4 linked regions of the Homo sapiens genome follow. The protein of the gene in region 3 interacts with the protein of the main gene of each other region in a biochemical or structural test. Each region holds a gene or a part of one and is shown on either strand. Other genes may lie near its edges. The genes, in order: RAD18, POLI, POLH and RCHY1.

Region 1 (6,930 bases), on a different chromosome or scaffold from region 3:
ACACTGATGAACTCCAATGTGATTCTTAAAACCCATTAAGACCCAGAGAAAAAAATTCCTTTAGAATACTTTGGTGTCCCGTTTTGAAAACCTGGCCATATATTTTATTAAAAGCTAAGGTCCCAATAATTCCATTTCCGAGAATGTAATCTAAGGAAGTAATCATATATATGGAAAAAACTATATGCACCATGATGCCTTCTAAATTATTTGTAATTGGAAAAAGCTGGAAGTAACGTAAGTGTCCAAGCGTAGAATGTCTGTGCAAAATGGCACACGATCCAGATGGATTGTTATACAATCATTAAATAGTATTGTTAATGCACTGTGGAATCTTTCTGTGACAAATGAAAGCACTGTGTGTGTGTATGTGTATGTGTGTGTGTGTGAGTGTGTGTGTGTGTGTTTGTGTGTTTATGGAGGTGATCCTGGATAGGTGATATGAAATTCTGACTTGTCCAGCTTCTCTTGATACTATTGGGAAGTTGGCAGACACACAGGCACTTACTAGCATAAGCTGACTTCCATAACTTTATTCTAATATTTTGTATTTTGGAATCAAAGGAGTCAGAAGATGCATGCATCAGTTTCTGGGTGTCCATTTGTGCTGCCAGAAGAAAATACCACAGTCTGGGTAACTTATAGACAATAGAAATTTATTTCTCACAGGTATGGAGGCTGGTAAGTCCAAGATCAAGGCACTGGCAGATTCCGTGTCTGGTGAGGACTGCTCTCTGCTTCCAAGATGGTGTGTTGTTGCTGAGTCCTCCAGAGGGAACGAAGACTGTGTCCTCATGTGGCGGAAGGGATGGAAGGAAACAAAACCACTCCCTCAAGCCCTTTTAGAAGGACCGTGACCCCATCTATAAGAGCTGTGCCCTCACGACTTAATCACATCCTAAAGTTCCCACCTCTTGTTAAGTTTCAACACATGAATTTTGGGGAAGACAGGGATAAGGAAAGAACATGGTGATTAATGCTGTCCCCCTGGACTGATTTTCAAGCTTTCTATGGCAAGAGTTTATAGGCAAAAACAAAATCCGTCCATTGCATGTTTGATAGTGCCATGAACCTCTCTTTTGTTGCACTCATCACAGTTGTACATTAATCTATATAATTACTTAATGCTCATCTTCCCTTCTGATCTACAAGCTCCATCAGGGCAGGAACTGTCTTTGTTTTGCACATTACTTGACATATAGTCCTAATAGTTGAAGGAAGGAAGGACAGGAAGAGTGGAAAGGAAAGAAAGGTAAGGGGAAAGAGAAAAAAAAGGGGGTGGGGAAGAGAAAAGAGAAAGAGTGAAAGGGGAAGAGAGAGGAAGCAAATTTTTGCACAGGACGCTGTGGTCCGGGTGATAGTACACTAGCAAACCAGGAAAGCACACTCCCATTTCCACTTGGAACACAGCAAGGCCAAGAGACTGAAATGGACAGGAAGGCAGGGCTGCCCTAGCACTTGGCAGGTTTGCATCTTGGGGCTATATCGGGGATGGCGTCCTAGGCAAGGTAGGACTTTCCAGCAGGGCCAGCCGCAGTGCACGTGACAGAGCAGCGGTGAGGAGGGCAGATGCTGGTAGAAGTCTGTCGGGGGGAGCAGCAACATATGCAAGCATGGACTTGTATCTGTATTCTGAATATCTGAACCTGGGGATACCCAGAAATACACAGAAGGAATGGAGAAATGCCCCCTTTAAGGTCTCAATGCAGGTAGGGAGTATAAAGTCAGTATCATGGGTGTTAATGTAAATACTTGTTTACAGCCTCAGATAGTTGTTCTTAAGGATGTCTAAAAACAGACTAAAAACCAAAAAAAAATTACTGAAATGGTAAAAAATGTAATGGTTGTGGTTTTCCCTCTTATGTTCATACTTTCATAATATGTACATAACAGACAGAAGTGTTTCTCATTTGAATAATTGCTACTTTCTTTTATCGGATGCTAAGAAGTTTGAAATCCATTGTTTTTGGGTTTTTTTCCAGAAACAGTTCTAGCCTTCTCTATGTTGTCTATCCCTGTTGACACATCAGTCTTTACCATGTAATTTTGTTTTTAAAGGCATACCTCCCTCTATTATATACATGGTCTTATGTGTATGAATTCTTTTTTCAACTAGACCAGTAATCCTCAACATGAGGTCGAAAAAGAAAGACGAGAGTAGAGGATGAAAGGACGGCCTGGCATACTAGGCCATCTAAAGTGCATCCAGCAGCTCACCTGCACCCCCACAAACCATAAGCATCACTGCCATTCTGAGCTGATGTTGATGGGAGATGTTATAACTTTGAGGGGAGTGAGGAGGTAGAAAGAGTTAATAACTCTGAATTACTGTAAGTTTGGTGAGAAACTGTATTTTCACTAAAAGGTGAATTTTAGAACCAGAAGTTTATCAGTTTCAATTTTGGATCTATTACTTACTCTAAGTTCCTTAATCTTTGTCAGATGGATATGAACATACATTTCTTTCAATGTATGAATATTAAACATATGCTAAGTGCTAACAGATAGTGCTCAATAAATGCTCTTTAGACCTTACTTTTCAGGTAGACTTGGGAGTTCCTTTACATTACAGGTTTCTCAGTCTTGGCACAACTGACATGTTAGACTGGATAATTCTTTACTGTGGAGTGTTGTAGTCTAAAGCGTGCCCCTTAACCCCTACCACTAAATATGTTGGAAGTCTTAACTGCCGGTATCTCAGAATGTGACAGTATTTAGAGATAGGGCCCTCTATCTAAAAAAGAGGTAACTGAAGTAAAATGAGGCCATACGCATGGGCCCTGATCCAATGACTGCTGTCCCTACAAGAAATCGGGACACCAGTCCTGCACAGTCATGTGCACACAGAGAAAAGACCATGCAAGGACACCATGAGTGGAAGCCAAGGAGAGAGGCCGAAGAAGAAACCCTACTGATCTTGGACTTCCAGCCTCCAGAATTCTGAGAATACACATTTCTGTTGTGTAAGCTTCCCCGTCTGCAGTATCTTGTGACGGCAGCCCTGGCAAACTAATCCATGAGGGTTGGGTGTTTAGCCTCATCCCTGGCCTCCACCCATTGATACTGGTAGTACCCCTCACCACCCTCCACCTCCAAAAGTGTCTCCACACATTGCCAGCTGTCTCCTGGGGGGCAAAATCTTTCTGCCCACCCCACTGGGAACCATTGTTCTAGATGATCTTTGGCCACCTTTGTATTCCCAGTGTCAGCACAGTGACAGACATAGATAACCAAATATTTGCTGAATGAACTCATGTGCCTACTTTCCCAATCTTGGGTCTCACCGCTCCCTCACAAACTCCTTTTGCTGCAATTAAAGTAATAATTACTTCCAGTTTAATTTATAGACTATATAATTTGTCATGAAACAAACAGTTTTCATTTTGACATAATTTCTGACAACTCAGTGACATAAATATATCCATGTGAGCTCCTATTTTGTTTGACATGCTCACTTACCTCACATCAGTTCTGCCGATAGATTTGGTAAGTGGTGCTTTTAGTTTCCTTAATGCACCCCTCAGGATTTCATGCAAATGAAATTATTATGACAAATTTTTCTATAGCCATTTCTAACACAGGGAACTCATAAAGAAATCAAATGTCTGCACTTCACTGTGAAAACACTAAACTCTCAGCCATAATGAGACTCCACACATTATCAGAAACCCCAAGGCATACCAAAAAGACAAGGTCAACGGAGACAGTCTTTGGAAGGGGAGGTCATAAATGTTGAATCTGGCAAATCATAAATTTCTTGTCTTAACATTGCCGCATTTACTATCATCTCATTTGAAAGCTGATGTGTTTGGGTTGGGTGATGGCAGAGGGGTGGGAGTTGGGGGATGCTGGCTCTGAAATGCCAGAGAGGCATTAAGAACTCTGGAAGCATCTGGCTACTGGTAGACATTTTACACAGATAGCAATTTCTGACCAATCCATTTCAATGATTTCTAACCCATACTCAACTATCCAGAGGATACTGTTTTAAGAACATTATTGTAAACTGATACTCTCTATTCATTTACAAAATTCATTCATTGCATACTTTTTGTTTAATAGCTTGGATTCAGTGTTACAGATTTGATTGACCCAAGTGAAAAAATACTGACACTAATCATTTTTAAGTGCTATTTCAGAAGAATATGCGCAATGTTTCTAAGTTATTGTGACTTTGTGACTGTCGTAGCTTTAAATTATAATACTAATATCCTACTCTGAGAAATGTGTAAGACACAGGTCTAACAAACAACTACATTAACCTCGGGCAACAACCATCATGGAGCTGCTGTAACACAGGCATGGTGGTGGCGTGCATCGGTACTTACACACACCAAGGATGTGAACTGACATCCCGCCTTTCCAAAAACAAACATTTAACTCAACTGTTTCTTGCAATAAAGAAGTTGAAAGAATCCTTTTGTGAGGCTGGATTCTCCATGGAAGAGAAGGAGAATGGCCTAAGGACATTCTGAAATTTAATTATCAAACCAAACCAAACCAAACCAAATCCCTGTGCCAAAGTGCCAAAGAGTCTACCTCCTCTGCAAAGCTGGTACCTGTGTGAAATGTCAGTATTTTTAGAGAGAGATGTTTTAGAGGCAGGAGGCAACTGACCAAGTAAGGATATTTTGTAACATTTTTCCCCTCTGGAAAAGCAGAAAAGAATGAATATCAGCTAACCGTAATATTTAGAATTTAGCATCTTTCCTTGGGCATTTATAAATAGAAAATCTATCTGTGGCAACCAAAAGTACGGTATTCTAATCAATGCATTTGAAAAGTCAGCAAAAGCCCACATTAATTCCTATTACGCTTGTTTCTTGGTTCAATCTCAGCACTTTCAGCGGCTCTTGTGCGGCGATTCTGTCTTGGACTTATTTCTGTGTCTTGAAGATCGTTTCTGAAGACAGAAAAAGGAAATGACATCTTGGAAAGTAATGATTATTGTACAGCAGTTTCTAGTTTACAAGTGTTTTCACACATATTATTTCATTAAAACCTCGAAATAATCCTCTATTCTGTTGATGAATTCATAATTGTTATTATTAGTATTTCCACTTTATGAATTAGTGAGTTAGCAAAGATCACAGATAGTAAATGAGCTCTGAACCCCTTTTTCTGAATTAAAATTTAGGAGTTTTATGCTTCTGTTTAGCATGTAGAGGGCTGGGAAAAAACGGCAAACAAAAAGCTGCTCCCATCCTAACAAGAAAAAGCCAGACAGTCTAACAAAATCTTAACTCTGTTTGATCCTTCAGAGACCTGAGGTTTTAAAGGAACTAAGAAAGTAAAATTCCAAAGAAAAATATGCCCCTCCAAAGATGGGCCACACTTCTCTCACTTTTGGCAGAGTGTTGGAGAACGAGGTGGCTGCCATACAAACAGGTAAGAAGAATCAGCTAAGATTTTCCTAATTTCTTAAATACAGGCTAGTATTGCAGGCCCCTGACACAAGGAGAGTCTGCACACACTTGCCAGCTCTTTTCCACGAGCCTCCGTCAGGTGCTCACAAGAAAGACTGGGAGCAGGACAGGTGAATGGAGAGGGGCCACTTCAGTGGCTACGGGGGACAGGAAGAAGTCAAGTCCTGCCTGCTCTCCTGAATGCTTCTCTCCCATGAAGCATAAGCTTTTCAGTTGCTGAGGGAAACACAGGAAACTCCCCCTGGGGCTCTAGCAAAGACCTATGGCCTCTGGGGAAGGAACAGAGGTGAAATCAGTCTGCCTCAAGGGGAGGCATATGACCTCATTTGCAGGAACGCAGGCAAAGATTCACTGCTGCAGGGGGAATGGTAGAAACTAAAACCTCTACCTTACAGGAGGGGCAGTAAATCATCTCCAGCTGATGACCTTACACTGACACCACGCAGAGGTTTGGTCAAGTAGCCAGATACCATGGGAGGAGGTGGAAGTGCTGAGAAAGGCCCACCCCTGAGACTCAGGCACACAGGGCCTACCTAAGACTCAGGCTAGACTGAGATAACAGTGAACCCCGGCTGTTTCCCACCATCAGCCTAGCAACAAGCAATAAGCAGGAGCAGGAAATGGCTGAGGGAGAGACACAGACATGGTGAAGATATGCCCCTATTTGGTGCAGGAAAGCAAGCATGGCTGAAAGGAAAATGGGAGCAAAATCAATGAGAAAAACCCTCTGGCAATCCAGCCCCAACACTAAGCAGAAGTCAAAGCAGCCACCTGCTAGAGTAACTTGAAGTGGATGCACTGAAGGTCACATTAGTCACTAGGAAACTCCAATCCAGGTCAACTCTGAATTACCCAGCTCAACTCCCCACACTAATGACCCAGTAGAAGGATGTGCATTTCTAGGCACAAACACTATCGACCTCAGTCCCTATGGTCCTTCACTGCATGGCCCGCATTCAAAAAGTATGATACACAATGAAGCAAGGGAAAAACCCATTTCGAGATGGAAATTCCTTCAATAGGCTTTAAGTGCAATACACAAAGTTGATAAAAAGACTTAGTGAACTTGAAGGTATGTCAATAAAAACCAGATTAAGATACAAAGAGAAAAAGGAGTATGTGAGGGGGTGCACATAGAATAGAGCAGCCAAGAGCTGTGGGACAATAAAAATGGCATAACATGTGTATAACTGTAATACCTGGAAGAAAGGAGAGAAAGAACTATGGATAATAAATATGTAAATATATATGGCTGTGGATTTTCTAAAAACGTTGAAACACTTCAAATCAAGATCAAAGTTGGTCAAAGAACCCCAGTCATGAGAAATACCAAAAATAAACAACCAACAAACAAGATCTCTCCAGGATTTGTTGTTGTTGCTGTTTGCTATTATTGTTTAGTGACTTTTCTAAACCAATCCTATAAATATGTATTCTTTGTTGTATATGGCAACTAAAAGTGTCTGCTTGATTAGCTTTGTAGTCCACTAATGATTGAACAGTT
Region 2 (5,250 bases), on a different chromosome or scaffold from region 3:
AAAATTAGCTGGGTGTGGTGGTAGGTGCCTGTAATCCCAGCTACTCGAGGCTGAGGCAGGAGAATCACTTGAACCCAGGAGATGGAGGTTGCAGTGAGTCAAGATCACACCTTTGCACTCCAACCTGGGCGACAGAGCGAGACCCCATCTCAAAAAAAAAAAAAAAAAAAAGATTCTGTAGTATAATTGGTCTGGTCTTCGTTCAGGGTTCCTGGACACCAAGCTCCTAAAACCCATGGAATTTCCTAAACAACAGAAGTGCCTTCATTATTCATGGTAAGCCCTGACACTGTATGCTAATGATGTGACCCACAGTGGGCCCTAGACAGCTAATGCTAAAAAGATGATTTAGGATGGAGGTAGCTCACTTCAAAAAAACAACCATGATTAGGGTGTTGAGACTTTGAGCCAGCCTGATGTCCAGACAGAGGAGGGAAACTGGAGATTAAGTTCAAGCACACAGTAAAGGTTTTAATAAATCATGCCTACGTAATGAAACCCCAAAGAAAACTCTGGACTTCTTGATTACTTGATATGTTTTATTTCTTGACTTGGACAGTTACATAGTTGTTACAATTACTCATTAACATGTTCATTTATGTTTATGTACCTTTCTATATACAGATTTTAAAATAGAAGTTTTTTTAATATTGAAAACAATCCAGATTTGATGGAAGACACAAATCTGCAGATTCATAATGAACCTAAATCCATGATAAATCTATAGCTAGACATATAATAAAAACTGCGTATCTCCAAAGTAAAAGATATTATCTTAGAACAGCTCAAGAGATGTCAGTTCTAAATCTACAGCTCTAAGGACATAATTTCAGAAGGTATAAAGAATTCTACCTAGAAGGAACATCTGACACACAAGAAAAAAGGTAAGCCCCCACCATGTCCCATCAAAAAAATAAACATTGACTATATAAAATACTAATAATATCCAATTTGGAGATTTAATAAAGAACTTGTGGAATTTAATTAGAATTAATGTTATTTCAATACCTTTGTGTTGTTTGGAAAGAGGGTAGCATTTTTAGATGTTTAAGGATAATCAAAAGGACTTGTAACATTCACATTCCAAATCAGTAAAGGGAAAATATATGATTAAATAGAAAACCCAACTGATCCCAAAAGATAGGAGGAGAGATAAAGGTGGGAAAGAAGCACAACATAGAAAAAGAAATATATTAAAAAATAAGATGGCAAAAAATAAATCCAAATAAATTTGTACTTTGGCACTACAGTGGAATAGATACTTTTTAGAGTTCTCCTAGTACAAAACACTAGATCTTGGAGAAAAGAGACCTCTTAATTCATTGCTGGTTTGTACCATATAAGGGAAATCTCCAGGCCTACACTCAAGACAGAAACCCCCTCTACACTATACACTCAAGAGAGAAACAGAAAAAATAAAAATAAAAATACCCTCTACATTCAAGACAGAAACAGGAAAAAAAAAAAACAACAACAAACTCGAGCTGAAACAAAAGCAAGAAAGCAGCAGAAAGCATCAAGCAAGAAGCAAGCTTGAAAGATGGGGTTTATCCCTGGAGGCAGATAGCTAACAGCATCTGCCTGTTAGTTTGGAATTGACCTGCAGAGACAAAACCTTCGGCTAGTAGTAAGGGTCAGGGAGCTTACACTTAAGACAAGGCATTCAATCAGGATCCACAAAGGTGAATAGAGTATGCCAAGGAGTTTGTACCACCTCACCCAGAGAAGCAACGAACTCAAATCATACTGAAGGAAAACATACACAATTTAGGCCCTCTGTCTTCTCGCAGATTAACACATACTCAAGGAAATAAGTCACAATGATATGCAATAATAACCTTAAATGTAGACTTATAAAGACTTAAAATATTGAAATTATCAAAAATATCATATATTTGACTTTTAAAAATTAGAAACAGACTTACAAGGGACTGTAATGAGTAAACGGGAAGTTAAAAAGAATCAAATGAAAAATATATTTATTGAAATTAAAACCATCATTGTTTTAAATAGCAGGTGAGATGCTACTGAAAAATGAACTAGTAAACAGAAAGATAGAGCTGATGAAATTACCCAAAATGCAGTAAAGAGAAACAAGAGGATGAAAAATATGAGAAATTAAGAGACATGAAGGATACAGTAAGAAAGTCTATCATTTGTATACAGTCCTAGAATAGAGAAGAAATATTTGAAGAGCTAGTGGTTGAGAATTTTACAGAACATGAATTAAAAGATACAGGAAGAAGCCAGTATATACTAAGAATAAAAATAAATTCGCACTTCCAAATAATACAGTAAACCTGCAAAGCACCAAAGAAAAAAGAGATAATCTTAAAAACAGAGAAAAAAGATCCCATAAAAAAGTTGATTCTGAGGCCCAAAGATGTTGAGACTAACTTAAAACCACAAAATAAGTAGCGTAACTGTGACATAGCCCGTACATTCTCAATCTATGAAATGTATTTTTAACTATTTTGCTTTCTCTTTTTAAGCTGGCCAAAACCATTTACTTTGTTTTCTTAGCCATTTTTTCTTAAGCCCCTTCTAGCTGTCCAAGGTCCTGAAATCATTACAAGGACTATAAAATGTTTTAATGATTTACAAAAAGTTATATACCCTTTTCATAAGTTTAATTACCTTACTGGAATACTCATGTAAAAAATACTATGTTCCTTGATTCAGAGTACTAAATATTTGCATGGTGAACAATTTCTGATGTTCTTGCTTCAAGTTACTGTTCCTGATAACCTCAAACTACCTATTTACAATCCTTCGTGTTAGCATATTTTCAAATTCCAAGGAATCCAAAACTAAGTTAAAATTTCAGAGCTGGGGCCAGGAGCAATGGCTCACACCTGTAATCCCAGCACTTTGGGAGGCCAAGGTGGAGGATCACCTGAGACCAGGAGTTCGAGACCAGCCTGGCCAATATGGTGAAATGTCATCTCTACTAAAAATACAAAAATTTGCTGGGTGTGGTAGGGCATGCGTGTAATCCCAGCTACTCAGGAGGCTGAGGCAGGAGAATTGCTTGAACCTGGGAGGCGGAGGTTGTAGTGAGCTGGGATTGCGCCACTGTACTCCACCCTGGGCGACAGAGTGAGACTCTGTCTCCAAAACAAAAAAAGAAAGAAAAGAAAATTTCAGACCTAGAAGAAAGTATTTTTAAGCTACTCTTTGGTTCATATTTGTGTACTTTATTTTTAAAGTCTCTTCTTTAGATTATATGTGCAAAAATTATAAACTTGAGACCAGGATACTCCCATATTGGTGCTGAGGGATACTTTAGTATATTCTATAAACATCCTCTATGTCTTGCAAATTATATAATACATTCTCAATCTTATATCCAATTTTTAGTTTAGCAGGCAAAAGAGGAAGGCAATAACAATGGGAGAAAGAGGACATCCACCAATTTAGTAATGGTCTATATTTGTGGTTGTTATGACAACCTAATATCATCTCCAAATGTAGGGAAGATACAAAAACATCTCAGTGCTTTTAGGCCCTTCAAACTAGCTAGAAAGAAATGGACTTCTTCCATTATCCAGTATGCTTATAGGCCCATCACCTTGCCTTTCTGGTGTCCATCTTTCCCTTAATTTACTTGCACGGAGAGTTCCTTCTACCACTGTTCTCTATAACATATACCCTCCTCTCACTTTAACTCCCCACCCTGGCCCTAGCCAAACCATTCATTCATTCAATGTTTATTGAACGGCCTTTGTGTGCTGTGTATTGTGGTAGATTCTTGGTGTATGAAGAAGCATTAATTGAATATAAATTGCTTTGGTATTTTAAAAGTCAACATACTAAATGTAATGTAGTACTTTAGTCAAAACTATCTATATTTTTAATAGGTTAGTTGGCAGTAGGATTTGCTATTCAGCCTAAGAGGCTGAATTTGAGATATTCCACATTTCACAGGAAAAAAAAAAAAAAAATGTGTCCTTTACCATATCATTGCAACGATTTGGCTATTTTTTATATATAAACATATACATCTCCCCACCAATTCATGAAAAATATTCTATGTTGACCATGATATTCTTTTTATTGAAAAGTAATATAAAATGGCTTTAGACATAAAAGATAGTATTTTACATTATTTCTTCTGTTATATTTTTACGCTTTGTGCCAGAATTTACTTCTTGCAACTATTCTTGCTTTATCTGGAACAGTTTACTCCGTTATTGAATATCTATTAGTGTTTAATATAGAAGAGCTTAATAAACCGCTAATCCGAAAATAATGGTATTCCCTTGCTTTTCAGACCTTTTTGCTGAATATGCTTATTTATGTCCAATGTGGAAATCTGATCCTGCTCTCTTCCACTCTGCCAGCAGTTCCTTTTGTACTGCTTCTGGTAGTTCATAGAAAACTTGAGGATCAATGTCAGAAGGGAAAGTAATTTTCTCATCAACAGAATCTGGCTCTCTATTTTCTGTAAGTCCTTCATGAGAGTCTGTTGCTACTGTTTGCTTATGGCTATCTGTAGTGTGGTTTCTGGAGAAAAGTTGCTCACTCTGCAAGTTTGGAAATGAATGAAAAGCAGACACAGCAGGGTTTGAATTTGTAAAGTGGAATCCTTGAGGTTCTTTAGGTCCTTGACTTATTCGTTCATCTTTTAATCTATTATCTAAATAATATGAATAATCCTTTTGGCTAGACATGTAAGAAGAACTACTGCTATTAAAGCCTGATGTTCCCGGTTCACAAGGAGATACAGAGGATACCTGTTTGCTACTGGATAAATGATCTCTAGGATTTATGGGAATATCTTGCATTTGTTTTTTAGAAAAGAAAGATAATACTCCTCTAGAGGCATGTAATGGACAACTCACACTTCCTTTCCCTTGAAATTTTTCCCTAGATTTTCCAGAAAGGATTTCTTCTTGAATATCTACTGGAAGCTGCTTGAAGACTTCTTGGTCAACACCTTCAGGAAGTGAACAGAGTGGGAATTCATTAATGTCTTTTTCTTTAGAAAAATTTGTGGTATCTAGTGGAGACTCCCTAGTTCTTGTACTTTCAATTCTTCCACTTGGTAGGAAATCCCGGTTTGTTTCTTTGTCTTTGGGAAAATCTTCCATATGAGTGTCTTTCATTTTCTAGAACACAAGAATAACAGACTAATTTACATATCTGATATCTTTTAAATATCGCTGCTGCTGCTGTGTGCCTGTAGCTATTATCTGACATGTTTCTAACCTACTCAACAAATACAACTCTTTGTGGCCAGTTCCAAAC
Region 3 (7,032 bases):
TGCAGGAGTTGCTTTAGAGGATTCTTCTAGCTTCGACACCCCTTCACAAACAGGGACACACCCTGGATACTCTGTTGGTAAAGAGTTTGGTAATGCTTTACAGTTGGACCATGGGTTTTGTTGGGGGGAAGAAACTGAAGAATTATTAAGCTGTTTCTGCTTTAGAAGCAGACTTTTCTGCTTAAAGAAGGGCTCAGTTCCTGTACTTTGACTGGTTTGAAAAGGTAATGAGGGCTTGGATGGTGAATTGCTCATGGGAGCCTGAGTGGGAGCAGTAAGAGATGAAAGCGAAGCTTCTTTAACTTTCTGCCTTTCTGCAGCTTTTTGGAAGAATGATTCCAGAGACGTGGTTGCTTTCTTAGTGGCTGTCACCGCTGGGCCACTTCCCTGGGTCTTAGCTTCTGAGCTGGTAACTGGCACCTTTGGCAGAGAACTTGGGTCACTGCTCAAGAAGCTGGTGATGTCTGTAGAAGATGAAGGGGCAGAGGCAGAAAATTTTGTAGCACAGAGGAAAAGCATTGTGAGAGGAGGAGACCTATACAGAAAGTAAAGAAATAAGATGATTAGCAATTTAGAAGATTAAAATAGTGACCTATTGCTAATTCCATGAATTGTATCTGTTTTATTTCACCATAGGACAGATTTAATCCATAGATGACTAGCATTCTGGTTCTGCCACAGAAATTATTCTTTACTGCAGTGGTTCTCAAACGTTAATGTGTATCAGAGATTAACAGACCTGGGATGACAGAGAATTTAATTTCCTAGGTGATGCTGATGTTATGTCTTGAGAACCACTAATTTAGCAACCACTCACCTCCCGACAGCTAGAGATTATTGTTTTTTATAAGGTACCACTGGAAAGCTGCTGTAATTCAGGGTTGGGGCAAGAAATTTTATTCAGGACAACAAAAAGCTTTAGAATATTTAGACTAGAAAGACTTGAAAAAATCCTCTTAGCCATTATCCTGTTTTTAAACAGGGCACTACCTAACCCTGACTGACTTACCACTCTGGAATTTCTAGAGAATGAAATTCCACAACTGCTTTTCGTTACTAGTCCCAATTTCAGAAACATTTTAAGAAATTCTTGTGATAGCCGGGAGCGGTGGCTCACACCTGTAATCCCAGCACTTTGGGAGGCTAAGGCGGGTGGGTCATGAGGTCAGGAGTATGAGACCAGCCTGACCAACATGGTGAAACCCCATCTCTACTAAAATACAAAAATTAGCTGGGTGTGGTGACACACGCCTGTAACCCAGCTACTTGGGAGGCTGAGGCAGAAGAATTGCTTGAACCCGGGAGGCAGAGGTTGCAGTGAGCGGAGATTGCGCCACTGCACTCCAGCCTGGGTGACAGAGCCAGACTCCCTCTCAAAAAAAAAAAAAAAAAAATCAGAAATTTTTGTCATAAAGTTCCTCATTGTGTCTAATCACTCAAATTTTCACATAAGCTGAATTTCAGAAGATGAAATATGCTTTTATGTACAGATTAGTCCTTCAATGAGGTAAAGGGTAAATGTCATTTTAAAGTTATTATTACACTATTGGCCGGGTGCAGTGGCTCACGCCTGTAATCCCAGCACTTTGGGAGGCCGAGGTGGGTGAAACACCTGAGGTCAGGAATTTGAGACCAGCCTGGCCAACATGGAGAAACCCTGTCTCTACTAAAAGTACAAAATTTAGCCGGGCGTGGTGGCGGGCACCTGTAATCCCAGCTACTCAGGAGGCTGAGGCAGGAGAATCGCTTGAACCCGGGAGGCAGAGGTTGCAGTGAGCCGAGATTGCGTCACTGCACTCCAGCCTAGACAACAAGAGCGAGATTCCGTCTCAAAAAAAAAAAAAAAAAGTATCCCAATATCCTCAGGTTTCATGCTTTGGGACAGTCTTATAATCAGATAATTTTGATGCTTCCCTGTGCATCACGGAGTTTCACACCGTTGGTGAGTAGTATTTGTTATAGTTTGTCAATTTATAACTTTTCAAATAAGGTTTCATGTGTACATTAGTACCACGGTTGTTATTTGGTTTTGTAAAACTTCAATATTTGAAAATAAATATATCAGGAAGTATTAAGTAAATTATTCTCAGAACAAAGACTTTATTTATTTATTTATTTATTTGTTGTTGTTGTTGTTGGAGACGGAATTTCGCTCTTGTTGCCCAGGCTGGAGTGCAATGGCGCAATCTCGGCTCACCGCAACCTCCACCTCCCAGGTTCAAGCAATTCTCCTGCCTCAGCCTCCCAAGTAGCTGGGATTATAGGCATCCACCACCATGCCTGGCTAATTTTTGTATTTTTAGTAGAGACAGGGTTTCACCATGTTGGCTGGGGTGCTCTTGAACTCCTGACCTCAGGTGATCTGCCTGCCTCGGCCTCCGAAAGTGCTGGGATTACAGCCGTGAGCCACCGCGCCCGGCCCTATGAACAAAGACTAGGAGACTCCACCATATTATAGGTCTGTACACATAATTATACTGCCAATATATTTAGATAAGTAATAAGCGATTAACTAAACTTTGATTTTATTTTGTATAATATTCAATATACATCTGTAAGTGAGCAACTGACTTACCTCTCTCTCATAATTATATTTCTATTGTGAATTTGGAATACTTTAAAAAAAGTAAGGGCTTTATTAAATATGCAATTAAAGGATTCCAATCCTGAAAATCATTAATATCTGGACAGAAAATGAAGATGCTCCAAAAAGAGGCTTATATTTCATGACCAACAGAAGTGAAGTTTACTAATGAATATGACATTTGGTATAATACCAGTGGAGCTTGTAACTGAGTTGGGATGTCAGATAGAGAATATCAGTGAACACAGGTCACCTTTATAATCAAGAAATATGCTTTTAAGATAGAACAATCAAGTAGTTTGAAGTTCCCAAATGTATCCTTGAAATTTGAGCTCTGTTCTCCAAGTGCAACTGGTCATTTCCCTGACCAAGCCAATACAGAGTAAGGGTCTAACCTCCTGGGAACTGGAATGTATCAGCTGTCGGCAAAGGATCTGTGCTGAGCTGTCTTGTTTCTGAGGTTGGTACTGTATTTTCTCCCAGAGTAACAGGTACTGGTAGTCTGAGTCAGAGTCTATCCCAGATGGAAGAGCTCAGATTCCTACTACTTGTAGAGCTAAGACAGAGATTCCTACTACTTGTAGAACTGAGACAGACCTCAGGTGATTCACCCACCTTGGCCTCCCAAAGTGCTGGGATTACAGGCGTGAGCCACTGCGCCCGGCCGATACTTTAATAATAACTTTAAAATGACATTTACCCTTTACCTCATTGAAGGACTAATCTGTACATAAAAGCATATTTCATCTTCTGAAATTCAGCTCATGTGAAAATTTGAGTGATTAGACACAATGAGGAACTTTATGATAAAAATTATGTCTTGTAGAGCTAAGACAGAGCTAAGAATCATCATCTATTCTGAGAAGATGAGCTAGAAAAGAACTCACCATTCTGTCTGGATTCCAGAAGTATTACAGTTCTTGATGACAGTAAATGCATCATGGCTCATCTTGTGAGCATCATAGCGGGTAAGGGCACAGCAGCGGCGCAGGCTGCTGAGGCGTTTGTCTCCTTGTACACGAATGCTCACAACCAGCTGGGTGGCTACCCTGTCATTCTGTGGGTGGAAAGGATGGAGACCAGAAATAAAGTTATGAGGAGCATCTGAATTCTAGGTACTGAACTGCAGGAGAGGAAATTAAAAGAACCAGGGTGACAATGGTTTGGAAACAGTAGTTTAAAAGTCAAGAATAAAGGTAAACTGAGTTCTGCAAAGAGTAAAGATAAAATATAAAAAAGAGAAAGAGGCCAGGCATGGTGGCTCACGCCTGTAATCCCAGCACCTTGGGAGGCTGAGACAGGTGGATCACCTGAAGTCAGGAGTTCGAGACTAGCCTGGCAAACATGGCGAAATCCCATCTCTACTGAAAAATACAAAAAAACTAGCCAGTCGTGGTGGCAGGCACCTGTAATCCCAGCTACTCGGGAGGCTGAGACAGGAGAATTGCTTGAACCTGGGAGGCAGAGGTTGCAGTGAGCCAAGATGGTGCCACTGCACTCCAGCCTGGATGACAGAGCAAGACTCTGTCTCAAAAAAAAAAAAAAAAAAAAAAAGAATCTATATATATGCAACAGAATGCATTTTCTGAATAGAAATCTGATTACATGGTTCCACAAAAAAGTGTTAATGCTATTTCTGGGTGTAAAAAGTAACTGAAGAAGACATAATTTGGATTATGGAACATCGGAGTATCCTAGGATGTTTTGACAGATGATGGGAACAGGACAGCACAAATGAAAATGGGACTCCCCTAAATGTTTTTCATGGTGTCTAAGCAGGACAATTATAACAAATATCTACAATACTAGATACTATTTTGTGACTGAAGGAAGGTTTCAGGTAAGTAATTGTCTGAAAGCAAAGTGGAACTAGGCTTCAAGTCATATCTTTTTTTCTGCCCTGGGGCTCTTATGGTAAACAAACATTCGCCACCAATTCCAGAAGTTTCTACCAACACCTTTTTACAGCTTATCTAGAGAAGATACCATATAGTGAGCCTGCCTTGAGAGAGCAAGATCATGACTCACTTTTCAGTGAAGTCTGAAGCATCTGAATGCTGTAATCTCAGCAAACTGAGACATAATGGTCAAGAGGCAGAAATATAAGAAGGTGAAAATTCTACATAAGGGACCCCTATCAAAAGATGCTAGTGAGAAGAAGTATCCCTAAGGCAAACAAGCTAAGAGCAGGAACTACTTTTTGGATAAAAAATACATTTGTATGGATTTATATATCTTGAGGGAATACAAATTAGCAATTATAAAGGAGTCCTTGTTGACCAAAATTATTCAACTATAACTGCATGCCTAGACAGTGCCTAGAGATGCAGGAGAGAACAAAATAAAGTCCAGGTCCTCATGGATCCTATGTTGTAGTAGGAACTATAGATAATAAAAAATAGACATGTAACAGAAATGACCACAGAGATGAGTGCTATGAAGAAAAGCAGAATAAGGCAGAGAGTGATGGAGGCTGCTGCTGTGATAGGGTAACTAGGGAGGACCTCCTGGAGAATGTAATACATGCACAGAGATTTGAATAAATCAAGGAAGCAAATATTAAGAATATATGAACAAAGAGTCTCCAGGGCAAAGAAACGGGAAGTGCTAAAGTAAGAGCTTACTTAGTGTGTTAGATAAAGGGAAGGAGGCCAGTGAAGTGGAGACTAGAATAAGTGAGGGGAAGATAAGAGATGGGGTCAGAGAAGTAGCAAGAAATTAGATTATATTTGGCTTTATAGAATTACTTTTAAAAAATTCCTTAATATGCCTTAAGTGTGAAGGGAAACCACTGGAATGTTTTAAACAGTGAAGTGATAGGATCTGCTATGTCCTGAATTATTTTTGGCATAAAGTCCTTTGAAGCTTAAAAGATAGATTTTCAGGGATCCCCACTGGATACAAAGAGGGAAGAAAAGGCTAGGCACAGTGGCTCATGCCTGTACTCCCAGCACTGTGGGAGGCTAAGGCAGGAGGATTACTTGAGCCCAGGAGGTTGAGGCTACAAGGCTGCAGTGAGCTAAGGTTGTATTACTGTGCTCCAGCACGGATGACAGCCAAGACCCTGTCTCTTAGGAAAAAAAAGTGGAAAGAAAGGCCCCAGGGACTTAGAGAGAGATGAGAAACAAGTGCCACCTAGTGGGCAAAAGCGGAAAAGGGCGATAACGCAACTGGATCAAATCCCTCTTTATGATGCCTACCAAAGGAACAAACATTTACCACCCATTCCAGCTAAAAAGGAGCAACGAGCAGTTTTGGACTATTCTTGACATGTACAGTTGACTTGTAGAACTCCAAGACATTTCAAAAGAAGAGGATGCATCAAACAATACCATTAGGAAAGTGAGAAGAAAACCCACAGAATGGGAGAAAATATTTGCAAATCACGTATCTGACAAGGGACATGTTAAAACTCAATAATAAAGAGACAACCCAATTTAAAAAAGGGGAGAGGATTTTTGTTTTTTCTTTTTTATTTTTGAGGTGGAGCTTTGCTCTTGTTGCTCATGCTGGAGTGCAATGGCGCAATCTCGGCTCACTGCAACCTCCACCTCCAGGTTCAAGCGATTCTCTTGCCTCAGCCTCCTGCGTAGCTGGGATTACAGGTGCCCGCCACCACGCCCAGCTAATTTTTGTATTTTTAGTAGAGACAGGGTTTCGCCATGTTGGCCAGGCTACCCTCGAACTCCTGACCTCAGGTGATCTGCCCACCTCGGCCTCCAAAAATTTGAGCCACCACGCCCGGCCCAGGAACAGGATTTCAACAAACATTTCCCCAAAGATATACAAATGTCCAACAAGCACATGAAAAGATTATCAGAGAATGTAAGCCAAACCATAATGAGATACCATTTCACACCCACTAGAATGGCTAAAATTTAAAAAGTCAGTAACAAGGATGTGGAAAAATTGGAACCCTCTTACATTGATGGTAAGGATGTGAAATGGTGTAGCCACTGTGGAAAACAGTCTGGCGATTCCTCAAAATGCTAAACATAGAGTTAACATATGACCCAGAAATTATACTCCAAGGTATATGCTGGAAAGAAAACAGGTGTCTACACAAAAACTTGTAGATGAATGTTCATATCAACATTATTCATAATAGCCAAAAGTGGAAATATACTCAAATGTCCATTCACTAATAAGTAGATAAGCAAAATATGGTATATATTAATACAATAGAATATTATTCAGCCATAAAAAGGTGTCAGTCCTGGCCGGGCGCAGTGGCTCACGCCTGTAATCCCAGCACTTTTGGATGCTGAGGCAGGAAGATCACAAGGTCATGAGATTGAGACCACCCTGGCCAACATGGTGAAACCCTATCTCTACTAAAAATACAAAAATTAGCTGGGCGTGGTGGCGCGTGCCTATAATCCCAGCTACTCGGGAGGCTAAGGCAGCAGAATCACTTGAACTGGAGAGGCGGATGTTGCAGTGAGCCG
Region 4 (7,417 bases), on a different chromosome or scaffold from region 3:
TAGTGAGTCTCACTTTTCTCCTTTTTGAGAAAATGTCTGCCAACTACCCAAATGTGAATGACTACAATTTTTTCAAGTAAAAAATGCTGTTCCATGAAAAAAAGCAACTAGTTCACTTTACAATCCAATTTGCACAAGAGCTTTTCCTCAAGACAACCCTCTAATTTCAGTTTGCAGAAGTGTTTGATCAAAACTTCCCATGTCATTGAACAGCATATTAAAAGATATATTCAAGGGTTGAGATTTGGTTAAAATTAACGATTTTACTGCTTTATCAACATTTTTAAGTGAAGCTGGCTTTTTAAAAAAACTATAGGTGTAGTATAGTTCAGTGCCACTGTCTTGATTCAAGCTAAGATACTAGCAATACTAAACAGTGCTTTTCCACCATCAATGCGTGTGTCAACAGACTGAAAAAAAAAAAAAACAAATATCTTAGTGTTCATAGAAAGTAGTTTTGGCCTTGCAGAGCCCCTGAAAGGACTTCAGGAATCCCCAGGGTTCCATTCACCACACTTTGAAAACCAATGCTACAGAACAACGGCACCCTCTTTGCATCTCAATTCCAAGCATGAAATTCTCTAACCATTACCTCCTCCCTAACTTACTCCAAGTCTCCCCTTGCAACACCCTAGTTCCCTTCTCAGTTCCTCTACACTCATAGATAACAATCCCAACCCTAGTTAAATCCTATTTGACTTCTATCAGAAGCAGGTGAATATGGCTAGAGAAAAAGCATCACCGTCCTTGCTGGTTCATATGAGGTGGACACTTACTACCACGTTTCCCTGGTCAATTCTCTCATTCTTCCAGAGTCTAAGACCTAAGATTTAGATGATCATTTCACTTCTTCTCCTCTGGCTTTAAAACTCTAACAACTCTTCCTCCTTAACACTCTGCTGATGACCTTATTTCACTATAAAAACAGTAAACATACTTCCTGCTGACAGGCCTGAAAAGAACATCCTCCTATTATCTCTATTAACTTACTTGCAAATATACCTCATTCTCTGCCTTCCCTTAGGAAGAACTGACAGTCTATGTTTCTAAGGCCAACTCCTTCACTTGTGCACTGGATTTCATCCCCTTTGGCTACTCAGGGACAATGCCCTTACAGTTTTCTCACTCTCTCCTGCATTATAAAACGTTCTCACTCTATTGTATCATTTCCTAGAATATACAAACATGCTGTAATACTTCCTCTCTTAAAGAGGAAAAAATATGGTGCCAGATCTCCCAGCAACCACATCTTTTTTTTGCTCCCCTTTACAGCTAAACCCCAAGAATACCCTATAAGTGCTATTTTCAATTCCACTCCTCCCATTCTTTCCTAAATTCACTCTAATCCTGATCTCTCCACTAAAACTCCTCTTGTCAAGATCACCAGTGACCTCTTCCTTGCCAAATCCAAAGGGCAATTCTCAGTTATCTTACTCAAACAGCTGCATTTGACCCAGCTGACCACATCCTCCTTGAAATACTTCACTTGGCCTCTGGTATTTAAGGGGGGGGGGGGGGCGGGGGAAGGCAAAAACTGTTTGACACCTAGGGCGAAGTATCTTAGTGCTATGATACACAGATCTAATTGTGTGGTTTATGGGGGGCACCAAGATGTTAAATTCCGTTTTAGACCTCAAGTTTGAAAGAATAATAATACATCTCAGTAGAAATTGAATCATAAGGATAGCATTCAATTTCCTTACACAACACTTGGTGGATGACCAACATTTTTAAGGAGCTTCATCCAGTTCAGTGGAGCAATGTTCGTCAAGCCATGACCTATAGAAAAGAGTTTAGGATGCACGTACAGGCCTGAGACTTGAACTTGCTTCTAATAATGAGGCAGTGACCAGCAAGGCTGACTTGTGAAGTGAAAGAACAAAAAATAATAATACTCAGATTGACGATGATAGTAACAGTCATGGTGGTATATATTTACTACTCATTTACTTCAGGGAATGCGCCCTGTTAAACACTATACACGCCCTTTAGTATATAATCCTCATACACTTTTATGAAACAGGCGCGATCATCTCCATTTTACATACGGGGTAGAGAGGAGCTAGCTAAAATCAGTTATTAAAGAGGAGAGCTAAGATTTGGGGATAGGGCGGTTGAGGTTCCAAAGCTCAAGTTTTCTAAGCAAAATTTTTGTACTGTTTCTTGCAAGGAAAATCAGGAAACTTCAATTGAATACGTGCCAATTTAAAAAAAAATACAGATTAAGAAGTTTTCTCAGAGTAACAATACATGCTTATTAGGCACTTTCCTATGCATAATTTCCTATTTAATGGCAATTACATGATTGTCTTCTTTTTTGGGACACACGTTTTCTCCTACGTCTGAACATGTGCACTGCCTTTAACATGAAGCTGGCAGGCTATAAAACTTTACCACAGGAGCTGAAATCGTATTCGGGTTCTCCACTTGCTTATTTCCATTATCTCCACTTCCATTATTTCATCACACACCTGAACGGAAAACCCCAGTACAGGCCCGGGGCTGCCTCAGTCTACTTCGGCAGCAAAAGACGAATAAGCCCACTGGCAGAGACCACTGTGCAAGCCTAATCACTTCCCAAGAAGGGTTTTGCTTTAAAGGTACGAAGCAGGTAGGAAAGGTGGGGCTTATCGCCTTGCCAAAAACGTTCTCCTCAAGAAGAACCCAGTTCCAGGTGGAAAAGGTATCCTGAAAATCAGGTTAACCTCAAACTTAAATCCAAGCCTAACCACCTGCCCAGCCCGCCCCAGCCCAACCTGACGGAAGCTTGTCAGGGAAGAGTCCATAGAAGGCGTCACCTTTAGGAGACATCCTCTGTCATAGTGCTCGCAGCCCCGCTGACCTCGCTCTTGACCGCTGGCGCCATCTTCCCGGGCCGTCGCCGCCATCTCCTCCACCTCCCCTCACATTCCACCGATCCTTCCCCCAGGATAAAAACCACGCCCAGAGAAGCTGCGCCTCTCTAGCACACCCCTCCCAGCCCCAGCGGCCACTAGCGACAATATGGCTCCTAAGCACGTGACCCGGGGCAGACGGATTTCCGGTTCCCGGGGCTACGAGGCGGAAGCGAAGGCAGACGCAGTCTCCGTCGTTGACGTTAGTCGCAGTCTTCGCTGCTAACGGTAATAACTCTTAGGTTGCCTGTTTTCCCCCAATCGCTACCCGCCCAAATCTCAGGGCGTAGTTCGGCGCGAGGTTGGCGGCAGCGGCGCGGAGACGCTGGTTGGCCCCAGAGGAAAGGACGCTCACTGGGCGCATCGTTACCTGTGACGGGTCCTCCCTCTCTCCCTCCGGTGGCGGGGAGCCTGGAGAAAGGGGCGGAGCTCGGCCCGGGCCCTGGGCTCAGCGGGTCCCGCGCGCTGCTCTTGGACGCCAGGGTGCTCGCTGGCACCTCGAAGTGCTTCTTGCTTCCTCCCTTTCCCGTTTACTTGCTGTTCTTTCAAAATATGTACTGACATTCACTATTGCCAGTCACCAGCTAAACCGTGAGGACAAAAAGTAAGGAAAAATAGACACACTCCACCATGACCTCATGGAACTAACAAGACTGGTGGAGGAGGAAGACATTAATAAGAGCAATCACTGCAATAAATGTAAGATTACAACCTGGAGAAGTGCTAGGAAGAAGTGTGTGTCCTGTGAGAGCTAATATTAGAGCAGCTCTGACAATCTGAGTGTCAGTGAGGGAAGGCTTCCCTGGGGAAGCGATGCAAGCCGAGGGCTGAAAGATGGGTAGGAGTTAGTGTGCAAAAGGCTTTGTGGCACAAAGAACATGGTACCTGTTAGAAGGTGGAAGGAAAATGTACAAGCCAACAAAATTGAAATCATACTCGGGGTACACAGCTAAATATGTTTCTCCTTATTAAAGAGTCAAGGCCCTGGAAAATGATGTAAGCAAAGCTGCAGGTGTTAGAAGAAGATATTTGTCTTTAGCTTTCTATCCTGATTTTGTGTTTCCTAAAACACCGGGAAAGGGAAAATATTCCCCTTCAGCTTTCCGGTTACTAACTCTTAACATTCTAATTTTCTTTCAGTTTTGTTATGAGTTGCTAAAATGGTGAAATGCTGCTCCGCCATTGGATGTGCTTCTCGCTGCTTGCCAAATTCGAAGTTAAAAGGACTGACATTTCACGTGTAAGATTTTGCTGTAGTTAAGCCAAATACTTTGGCCATGTTATAAAAAGCAAAAGACAGTTCTACTTAAGTCTTCAATTTTGAACTTTAGTTCCCGAGTCCTTTTTAAATAACCTTTTTGTTAAATTTGAAGTGACAATGTGATACCTTTACATGTTTATAATTTAGTTTAAAAGTTTTAAGATATCAGAGACTTTAAGATATCAGAGACTGGTTTACAAAAAATACCATAAGGCTAACTTTTGCTAATATTATTACTTTGTATTTTATCACACCGCCAAAGAAATTCAATGTTGTTTACATGTAGTTTACAATCTGAATGAAGGAGCTTTGCTCGAATATATTGCCCTCTCTATTTAGAAGTAGATCAAGCATAGGTTATAGAGAAAAAATACAAATTACAAGTTAAGACCAAGGGATCTTTAGCTGTGTTGCAAATAAATCAAAATGATTTTAGTTTCATATTTTAGCCATTCTCTTGACAGCCATGAAGGAGTAAGTGAAGGAGTAATAAGATTTAATAGTTGTTCACTTGTTAAAGGTTTATTTTGCTGCTTTTGTGCCAGGCACTGTCCTATGTGTTAGAGAAAGATCTCCTAGCTATTTTGTTAGATATAATAAATCAAAACTGAGCATATATATCCTACCTTATTTTAGAAAAATTTGAACCAGCTTGAAAATTGAGTAAGATATGGCTATTAGGCCTTCATATCTCTCAAAATAGCTCTGATCTCCAGAACTCCACACTGCAGCTATTCTCTGCATTCATTCACTAAGCATCTGTAGACCTGCTATGTATTAAATGCTGTACTAAGCAATTTTCTGGTGCTGACAGAAGAATGGAATTACAAGGGGCCCTTTTTATCGAGGATAAATTCTGGATATCATTTCAGATAGGAAAAGGCCCAAGTGATAATTCTTTTATCATCTATAGATGAATAAATACCTTCAATTGTGGATCTTACTATAAGATGCTAAATATCCATTGAAACTTTTCTTCCTTATAATGTGAGAAAAAATGAAATGAGGGCCATATATCTGCAGCATGATTGGCAGAAAATCTGAATATTAAAACGGAAAGTAACAAAAGCATGAATTATGGTTTCCTAAATATTATAATTCTCAAGACTAATAAACTAGTTAACGAATCAATTTAGTCACAGTTGTATAAGGCAGCTTTAATTCAATTATATAGCAATAGTATTTGATTTTAAAATATTTTTTGTATTTTTTTTCTAGATTCCCCACAGATGAAAACATCAAAAGGAAATGGGTATTAGCAATGAAAAGACTTGATGTGAATGCAGCCGGCATTTGGGAGCCTAAAAAAGGAGATGTGTTGTGTTCGAGGCACTTTAAGAAGACAGATTTTGACAGAAGTGCTCCAAATATTAAACTGAAACCTGGAGTCATACCTTCTATCTTTGATTCTCCATATCACCTACAGGTTTGTTTATGAGATACTGTTTACCATCATTGCTCACTTTTTTTTTTTTTTTTTTTTGAGATAGAGTCTCGCTCTGTCACCAAGGCTGGAGTGCAGTGGCGCGATCTCAGCTCACTGCAATCTCTGCCTCCAGGGTTTAAGCAATTCTCTGCCTCAGCCTCCCGAGAAGCTGGGATTACAGGCACCTGCCACCACACCTGGCTAATTTTTGTATTTTTAGGAGAGATGGCGTTTCACCATCTTGGCCAGGCTGGTCTTGAACTCCTGACCTCGTGATCCACCCTCCTCGGCGTCCCAAAGTGCTGGGATTACAGGCATGAGCCACCGTGCCTGGCCATTGCTCACTTTTTATGATACTATTGAAGAACCTTCACCACTCTTGCTAACATTTTTATTGTTTGCTTATTCATTTGAAGTCTGTTCTTGAAGTTTTAAATTTGTAGACTGCATCTTCAACTTTTGTAATGTGTAGTAGGAGTATTTTACCAGTAACCACTCATAAATATTTGTATATTACTAAGGTTTGATGAAGTGGGCTGACTTTAGGAATTAGCATAACTGAAGATTTTTGTCTAAAAATGGAAGTTAACGTAAGAAGGTTGAACTGATGTTCCAAGTTGGCAGTCCTTAACACTGGGGCAGAAGTCAGGAGTAGAACCACTAACAGGACTAAAGTACTTGTAAGAGCCACATACATGCAAGCATAAAGTCTAGGTAGGATCAAAAGGAAGAAAACCAAAAAAGAGATCTAAGAACAGGAGAAGAAAAGGTCAGGAAAAGAAAGAACAGTCAAATAAGTAAACGCTAATTGAATTCCATGTTTTTTCTGGGTAATATTCCCATGGGTTGGCTGCCTCACCCTCAGTATCTCTCTTGACTTTGTATACCTGAAAGTGAATTTCTAGAACCTATAGACATTGATTGATTGATTCCAATGTGGAAAATTCAGGGAGAGCCTCCATTGAAAGGGATCTCCTTCCTGGCAACTAAAAACAAGAGAAGTAGCCAAAAGCGTACCCGCTCCCATGCAGTCCTGGTCACTTTCTGCAGTTGGTCATATTGTAGAACCTGAGTGATCAGGTAGAGAATGCCTCACTTTCTTCGGTGCTAATAAATATACAGTATCTTGGGAAAGTTGGTCTAGGGCTTTTGTTTTTTTTCCTACCACCAAGGTGTCATCTAGCCGTAATGTTAAGGGGACCTTAAGAAATATGGGCATAATAAATCAAATAAACCATAAGTTACCAACTTTCAAAAACTATTGATTTTCTTATAACAAATAAATTTTTCATTTTAGAAAATAAGATTATAGGAGCAAAAATAAAATAATCACATAATCCATAGATAATACTGTGAACACTTTGATCTGTATCTTTGTAATTATCCGTAAATATGCATCTATACTTATATAGATAATCTTCTGGAAATAGAATTATACTGTATACCTTTTCCTTTATTTGCTTTATTGGGTTTTTTAAAATAGTGTGTACTATGTGCCAGGCACTATTCCAAGTACTTTACATGTCTATTAACTCAGTCCTTGAAAGAACCATGTCAGGTAAATACTATTATTATTTTCATTTTATCACTTGAGAAAACTGAGGCCCAGAGAACTAGAATGCCCTTCCCAGGGTCACACCTCTATTAAATGGCAGAGGCTAGATTTGATCCCAGGCATTTTGACTTCAGAGTCTACTATTAACTACTACTCTCCATGACATTAAATATTTTCCTACACCGTAGCTTTCAAACTTTAGTCTACGTAAGGATTATCCAGTGAGTTTGTTTAAAATACAGAATCCTACATCTTCCAGAGAATTAGATTCAGTAAATTGG

Evidence for each region.
Region 1: the proteins of POLH (region 3) and RAD18 form a complex in vitro, tested with the Homo sapiens proteins (one study listed by BioGRID).
Region 2: the proteins of POLH (region 3) and POLI interact in far-western blotting, tested with the Homo sapiens proteins (2 studies listed by BioGRID).
Region 4: the proteins of POLH (region 3) and RCHY1 form a complex in vitro, tested with the Homo sapiens proteins (one study listed by BioGRID).

What each region holds. Positions count from the first base shown.
Region 1 is NC_000003.12:8,876,557-8,883,486, forward strand, and holds the end of RAD18 (E3 ubiquitin-protein ligase RAD18), read right to left. Parts: intron 4,904-6,930; coding exon 4,801-4,903; 3' UTR 519-4,800; downstream 1-518. UniProt on the Homo sapiens protein: E3 ubiquitin-protein ligase involved in postreplication repair of UV-damaged DNA. Postreplication repair functions in gap-filling of a daughter strand on replication of damaged DNA.
Region 2 is NC_000018.10:54,293,510-54,298,759, reverse strand, and holds the end of POLI (DNA polymerase iota isoform a (long)), read right to left. Parts: intron 5,112-5,250; coding exon 4,293-5,111; 3' UTR 526-4,292; downstream 1-525. UniProt on the Homo sapiens protein: Error-prone DNA polymerase specifically involved in DNA repair. Plays an important role in translesion synthesis, where the normal high-fidelity DNA polymerases cannot proceed and DNA synthesis stalls. Favors Hoogsteen base-pairing in the active site.
Region 3 is NC_000006.12:43,607,163-43,614,194, reverse strand, and holds part of POLH (DNA polymerase eta), read right to left. Parts: intron 3,642-7,032; coding exon 3,472-3,641; intron 536-3,471; coding exon 1-535. UniProt on the Homo sapiens protein: DNA polymerase specifically involved in the DNA repair by translesion synthesis (TLS). Due to low processivity on both damaged and normal DNA, cooperates with the heterotetrameric (REV3L, REV7, POLD2 and POLD3) POLZ complex for complete bypass of DNA lesions.
Region 4 is NC_000004.12:75,511,399-75,518,815, forward strand, and holds the start of RCHY1 (RING finger and CHY zinc finger domain-containing protein 1), read right to left. Parts: upstream 3,006-7,417; 5' UTR 2,889-3,005; coding exon 2,799-2,888; exon of another isoform or gene 2,757-2,798; intron 2,601-2,756; exon of another isoform or gene 2,510-2,600; intron 1-2,509. Other genes in the region: THAP6 (THAP domain-containing protein 6), read left to right, coding at 4,055-4,134, 5,374-5,581. UniProt on the Homo sapiens protein: E3 ubiquitin-protein ligase that mediates ubiquitination of target proteins, including p53/TP53, TP73, HDAC1 and CDKN1B. Mediates ubiquitination and degradation of p53/TP53; preferentially acts on tetrameric p53/TP53.